Linked DNA regions of Homo sapiens. The protein of the gene in region 1 purifies or fractionates together with the protein of each later gene. This does not show direct contact. Each region holds a gene or a part of one and is shown on either strand. Other genes may lie near its edges.

The links.
Region 2: the proteins of ENPP1 (region 1) and SMYD3 purify together in Homo sapiens (affinity purification with mass spectrometry; one large-scale study listed by BioGRID and IntAct). This does not show direct contact.

The regions. Positions count from the first base shown.
Region 1 is NC_000006.12:131,814,326-131,818,150, reverse strand, and holds part of ENPP1 (ectonucleotide pyrophosphatase/phosphodiesterase family member 1), read right to left. Parts: intron 1-3,825. UniProt on the Homo sapiens protein: Nucleotide pyrophosphatase that generates diphosphate (PPi) and functions in bone mineralization and soft tissue calcification by regulating pyrophosphate levels.
Region 2 is NC_000001.11:245,752,004-245,755,544, forward strand, and holds part of SMYD3 (histone-lysine N-methyltransferase SMYD3), read right to left. Parts: intron 1-3,541. UniProt on the Homo sapiens protein: Histone methyltransferase. Specifically methylates 'Lys-4' of histone H3, inducing di- and tri-methylation, but not monomethylation. Also methylates 'Lys-5' of histone H4.

The DNA.
Region 1 (3,825 bases):
TTTTCAATTCTCTCTCTCTAACCATAAGAGAGCATCAAGATCCCCCAGATGCTTGCTAACGTCAAAAAAAGCTTTCTAAGCAGGAGGGGGATCGGGAAACACATCTTTAGGAACAAGCTAGTTTCTCAAAAATATTCACCTGAAAACCAAGATAGTGATTTTTTTTTAAGACTCTCAAATCACACCTGTTATAGGATGTTTGCCAGCTAAGTCTGTGCAAAGTCCTGAAATACGGTGAGAAAATGGTCAATCCATAAATGAGAAACACTTGTGACAATTCGCTGTGACAATTTACTTCCTCCAAAATGATTTTCTTATGCATATTATACATATATATAAAATATGGAGATATGTACATACACACGTGTGTGTGTGTGTGTGTGTGTGTGTGTGTGTATGGAGAGAGAGAAAGAAAGAGAGACAGAGAGAGATTGAGAGAGAGAGAGAGATAGACATGGGGTTTCATTATATTGCCCAGGCTGATCTTAAATTATGGCCTCAAGTGATTCTCCTGCCTCGGTCTCCTTTAGAGGCATGAGCCACCACACATCCCAAAATCACTTTCTATCAAAACTCTCTATTTTTCTATTCTACTACATTTCAAAATAAGCCAAGAAGGAAACTCAAACTAAGAAGAAAAGCACAATTTCCCAAAAGTATACCTACTTTGGAAGCTCCCAGAAACAGCTGATTGTTGACTTCACACTAATAAAGTGCACTAATTTTGGCTTCCACCCAGGAAAATCTCATCACTGAACTACCAAAGACACATATATATCTCAATATAGAGGCAAGCTTTAGCATCACCACACCAGAAATTTCTTAGGTTCTAATTACACATTGTTATACTGAAGCAGGCAAAGGAGAGTTGGAAACCCAACAGCAGGCCAAGCTTGATGAATAGGATATAACATTTAGCAAATGAATGGGATGGCATTAGCTATTAGTCCGTGATAAAAATCTGTAGATAAAAGTCCTTCCAGTTACCATCATAGTCTATTATGTACTAATGGTGTGGCTTTTGCCTATAAATTTAGCCCATTGTTGCTAGAAGTAGAGTAAATCAACCACCTACATCTGAATAACTTGAGGTGCTTGTTAAAAAGTGAGGATTCTTTGGGTCCATTCCAAATCTATTAAATCATAATCACTGAGATTGGAGCCTAGGAATCTCTGTCTTTAACACTTCCCAGGTGGTTTTTATGCACAATAATGTCTGCATGGAAACCTGACTGAATCCCTGACTGAGCCTCAGATTCCTTATCTGTAAAGCAGAATTGACTGTCATCATACTTTCCTATTTCACAGTTGTTGAGTATTGAGGATCAATCAAAAATATATGGGAAATGCTTTTTAAAGCTGCCAAGTGCTACAAAAATGATTATAACCATCTAAACTTCTACCACCTACACTTCTACCAACACCTCTTCTAAAAACTAAAAGTAAAAAAAGGTAAAAATAATTTTTCAAAGACACTACAGATATCTTAATTCTTGCAACTAAATCTCAGATAACTAGAATACTCAGAAAATAGTCTTCCCGTTAATATTTAACTGAACATTCTGGTCACTCTTTTGAAAAACCTTAAATGTGTTCCTACATTGTCTTTCCTTGGTAAATGCATAACTTAGTTTTTATCCGATGACAAGGGATTTTCGAGCTGGGTCAGAATTCTGAGTATCAGGTTTTGTTGCACAAGATTTATGCTTAGAAGAGTAATCTATGTTCGGCCCTGAGCTCATTTGCTAAAAGGTTTCTTGTTTATTTTTTCTTGTTTGGGGGGTATTTTATGGTTGATGGAGGCATGCTTATTTTAACCAAAAGCAGATCTCTAATTACAAGTTGTATTCCAAATGCTTATTTGTTCCTAAGTTGTCTGGAACTTAAATGCCTCTCCCCATAGTAAGAAAAAAAAAGAAGTTATAAATCATGATAAAGTTCTCTGGCTTGTACAAAAAGGCCACAATATAGATGAAATACATTTGCTGTATCTTAAATGTCACACAAATATTTTACAATGGTAGTCATCAAACTTGAGAGCAAAATTGAATATGAAACTATTTTCATTTACCTTTAACATTGCTACTTAAGATAAAAAGAGTCAGCTGGATGAAGATGAAAAGCTGATACAGCCGGGCGTGGTGGCTCACGCCTGTAATCCCAGCACTTTGGGAGGCCGAGGCGGGCAGATCACTTGAGGTCAGGAGTTCGAGACCAGCCTGGCCAACATGGCAAAACCCTGTCTCTACTAAAAATACAAAAAAAAAAAAAAAAAAAAATTAGCCAGGTGTGGTGGTGTGCGCCTGTAATCCCAGCTACTCAGGAGGCTAAGGCAGGATAATCACTTGAACCCGGGAGGCAGACAGAGGTTGCAGTGAGCCAAGTTCACTCCACTGCACTTCAGCCTGCACTACAAAGTGAAACTCCGTTTCAAAAAAAAAAAAAAGGCTGATAGATAAAAATTTCTGTAAATGCTCTAGAAAGGTTAATGGCCCCCAGTTCTTTATTATACAGAACACATAAGGTCTCTCAATGTGACCACCAAGGATTTTCTTCAGAGTCATGATTAGGATATGATGGGGGCAGGAGATGACAAAACTGAGTGTCCAAAGTTAACTAAACAAGTGAAATAGAAATTAGCAAAGTGCTTTTGAAACAGTAGCTACGTATCCCTGAGAAAGAGACAACATGGAGTGGAAACAGCTGAGCTACAAATGGTGAAAAAGAAATACCAGAACAAGATTCAAGGCAGAAGAAAAGAAGGGACAGAAAGCAATGCTGAAGAAGAGCGAAGAATCACAAAGACTGAATTCAGGGTGTGGCAGCAAAGTTATCAAAACCAAAGAGGCCTTGGTGTAAGTGAAGGAGGCTCTCCTTCATACATGCCGACTGCCACACTTGGAGTGTCTGTACCTGAGAGAATGTTCACTGACTAGATTTCTGATTCTGAATCCACGTTATCACAGAGGCCCCGTCTGCCTTCTTCTTAGGCACCTTCACCTTAGTTGGGTACTTCTGTTCCTTCACTATCTCCTCCATCTCCCTATACCCAAATAAAATTATATCCCAGTTTTAATCTTACCCCTGAATTTATACCCAAGTGTCATCTCTATGTGGATTCCTGACCATCACAGACCCTATGGGTCCCTGCTTGTGTATTTAGTCTTCCCATCTTCCCCTTTTCCAAATCAAAGTGTGGCTCAGTCTAACAAAAAATGCAGTACATTCATTCAAGCAATTAAAAGCTGACATTGAGTGTCAGGTACTATCCTCTGCCTAATAGTAAAAACAACAGTCTTGGGTTCCTAGGAATCCTTTATGTATTTTATTAGAACATGTGAAACAAATACCATAAGGGACACAGAGAACACTTCTCTGGCCTCTTAAGATGCTCTGGTTATTCTGAAATTAAAATGTTCAACTATGGCTGGACAGATAACAAATTTTATAAACCAAAGGAGCAATGTCAACTCCAAGTCTGATTAAGAGCAGAGACTTAGCTTGAACATTCTTCCTTCCATATTCTAGAGTTAAGATAATGGATCATAAGGGAAGGAAAAGGAAGCTAATTGAATTATAATTTTTACACCCAAATCTCAAATAATGCCAGCTTCTGCCTCTTATAAAGAAGTCTTTCACAGCATATACTCAGGGCAACTTGAATCTATGCTCCTGGGTTGTATTCCTCAAACTTGGCCCAAATAAAGCTCTATAATTACATTAATTTTGCCTTGGTTTTTTTTTTCTTTAGGTCAGCAGGATTCACAGTGACTTCCCACCACCACCTGGTGTTTTTCTCTAAAATCAGTGCTTGGTACCAGCATG
Region 2 (3,541 bases), on another chromosome or scaffold:
TCTTTTCTCCACACTGCCCTGGATCCTCCGCTGCTCTGGACATCTTGAGGTCTGAGGCAGAGACCTGTGTGACAGCACGATTGCGGAAAGAGAAGGTTTCTCAGATCAGAGAGCCTTCATGGGAAATTTTCTTACTTGAAAGCACTCTTAGATGTTCTCTTCCCTTTTACTCAACAAAGAGCCAGAGTGCTTGTGATCTGGCAAAGGAAGATGAATGGGGCAGAATCACTGCCTGGAAAGATCTTTGCAGAGAGGGACGTAACCCTCCGTCCTGAAAAAGGCCAGACCTAACCTGCTCGGCCTCGCCTCCCTCCCTGCCCTCACAGAGGCCCTCGGCTGGGTGAGGGCCTGGCCTTGTTGCTCAGAATTTCCAGACCAGCCTCTTTTTTGCCCTCCTGGTTACATTCCCCAGGTTCCCCATCTGAAGAATGATCTGTGCTTCTCTCTGACTTGACTCAGAGGCTAAATGACAAAGCCATCTTCTTGTCACTTCAACAACATAAGTTCACTGGCATGCTTTGAACATACTACAGGCTCCAGGCTTCCTTCCTCGCTCTTTTCTTCCAGTTCCAGTGGTGAGTTTCACTTTCTCCTCTTTTGCAGCTTTAAGAGTAAGGTCTACTCCCCACTGATCCAGTATATTCCTGTTCATGGAAGGGGCAGACCTGCCCATCCCACAGTACGGTAACTACTTCCAGTTCTTCAGCCATTCTGGAATTAGAGCCACAGCCAGGAAGGGGGAGTTTCCTGGCCTTCCTCCAGCTTCACATCCACACCTCACAGCCTGCTTCCTTGAGGAAAGACCAGAAGGATCATCTAGTCCAATACCCTCATGTTATGGAAGGAAGTGCTTCCTGAGGTCACCTGGCTTGAGAGTTAGACTAAGGATGACCTCTCGGCTCTCAGGACTCAACCCAGTGTGTCCATTCCATGACTGCATTGTGCAGCCTCCCCGTATGAACAGACTGCAGTGACCAAGGAGAGGAGCAGAGGCTCTCCTGGACATGGCTGCAGAGATACCCTGAGGGGACACAGGTGCCTTCCTTGTCAAGATGCTGCTGGTCATGTTCTGTGTTCTCTTACTTGATGCTGAATGCATCACCAGTAGCAAAGGGGAACAGGGGCAACCCTCAGGAATGTGTGTGTAGAGTCTGAGATACTAAGTTTAGAGGATCTCGTCCATAGGGTGGCTAGAAACAGAGAGGAAATGGGTATGGGTAGGGGCAGAGAACTAATCTGAAGCAACTGAAAAAAAAAAAAAAGAAACTACATCATCTGTCTAGAAAGTAAAACGCCATATAGATTTGATTAATTCACAAGCAAACATACTTTTCTCTGAAAGATGGGCAGATGTAGATGAGAAAGGGAGAGAAAAACGAGAAGAAAGAAGTAGGATTCAGTAATGTGCAAAATATGTTAGTGACTGTGTGTGCGGATGTGTGCGTGGATGAATGGTGTGACACAGGTCAGCAGGAAGCTGCAATTCACACCTGGTGATGAGGACATCTGGTCCTTGTCTTGAACATCACCTGGGCCTATGGGTGAGCTGGGGCAGACAGTCCTCAACAATGTACGGAGAGGGCCCTGTGTGGCCCTGGGCACAGCCCTTCAGCACTGGGTGAGCTGGGGCAGACAGTCCTCAACGATGTACGGAGAGGGCCCTGTGTGGCCCTGGGCACAGCCCTTCAGTACAGCAGGAAGATGAGGAGGGCTTCCCCTCACATTACCATCCCCCAAAAAAGTTACAATAAATTTCTGACAAACGAGAGCAATTGTTTCAAGTAGCTCTGTGTCTCCCTTCTCCTACCACTCCCATCTGTCACCCATGCGCATGTCAGAGAGGACAATTCTGGTTTAATTTCCTGCAGTAGCATATAAAACAGATTAAGGAAATATAAAATTGGAGCAGGCTGGTGTTGGGAAAAGCTTATCTCTTTCCATTAAATTTTATTTTTTTTAATGGTAGCATTTAAAAAGAGCCTGCACATAATCTTTCACAGAGCACTCATTTGAAGCCTCCAAGGAGGGTGCCTGCTACACCCACATCCAGACTCGAAATGTCACATGAGAAAAGCAGCATAGCTTGTCTGCCACATTACAGGCATACAGTTAACTCAGTAATAGAGAAAGGGTCCCCAGAATTGATTTCAATCTCATCTGTTTTTTTAAGTAATTTTAGAATTGTGGTCATATATTAAATAAAATGAATTTAAATCAAATCATAAAGTTGGAAACAATATACCTCTCCTATTAATTTTAATATGAATATATTAAGCTTATCAAGGATCTCAAACAGTTTCTACCATGAGCTTGAGGAATCTAGTAAGTGACTTCCCAAGTATGATTTAAATATGGATATAAAATCAGAGGGAAAAGAAATGTATGCATGATAAGAACCCCTGGAATCAAATCACGACGGGAAAAAATAAAGCAGGTTTTCTTATTCTGCCCAACTCAGAATGAAAGAAAAGCAGAGGGTGGGGCACAGGGAGGAGGAAGCTGGTCTGGGGCATTCAAAGGAGGAAATGCAAGAAGCAAGAGGTACAACACATTAAGCAGCTCTGGAGGCACAAAAAGCCCTTTGCAAGGACAGCAGAGAATCCCAAAGACTTTGATGATCCACCTCAGCTCAGCAGCACCCCTGGAGACCCCACTCCACTCTACATCTTGGATAACTTCAAGTGTGTATTCCGCTGGAGGAATATGTCCTTTTGGGAGGCAGAATTTCCTTAGAGATAACATCTACCCATTCATTCACTCAATACTGTCTGAGCAGCTTTAATGAATAAAACTTGGCCCTTGCCCTGGGAGAAGCTCTGGCATAGTCAGAGGGACAGAATGTAAATACCAGATCATTGCAGTGGAACAGTGTGTGTTCAACAGAGATGCAAAGTGCTGGGGCGCCCAGAGGAAGGAGGAACCAGGTGGCCCCACGGCACCCTCAGGAGGGGTTACAGATGTGGTGAGCTCAGGTCTGTGCTTTCCAGTGGTAGTAGCCATTCCAGAAAAAGCATGGCTGTTGTATCACTGTTTAATCAATCAATCAGTACATATTAATTGAACTCTGAGAGACTCTGAAGAAGTTATGTTTCCTCAGCTAAATAATGAGACTGGACAATATAAATTCTAAGGGCAACCCAAGTCCCAATGTGTTGTACAATGTGCCATGCCAGACACAGCTACAAGGCGTGGATTTGGTTTTGTTTCCAAATATTGTTACTGATTTCTAATTTAATTCCATTGTGGTCAGATAATTTACTTTGTATTAACTTGAATCTTTTTATGTTTATTGATATCTGTTTTGTGGCATAAAATGGTCTCTTTTGGTATTATAGTTACTTAAAAATGTGCATTCTGTTATTGCTGGGTGAAGTGTTTTCTAAATGTCAGGTCCCATTGGTTGATGGTGTTATGGAATTATTTTGTATCCCTCCTCAGTTTCTGTCTAGTTGTTCTACCAACTGTTGACAGAGGAGGTCTGATGTTCCCAGCTGTGCTTGTCTATTTGCTCATTTCTCCTTTCAGTTCTATCAGTTTTTGT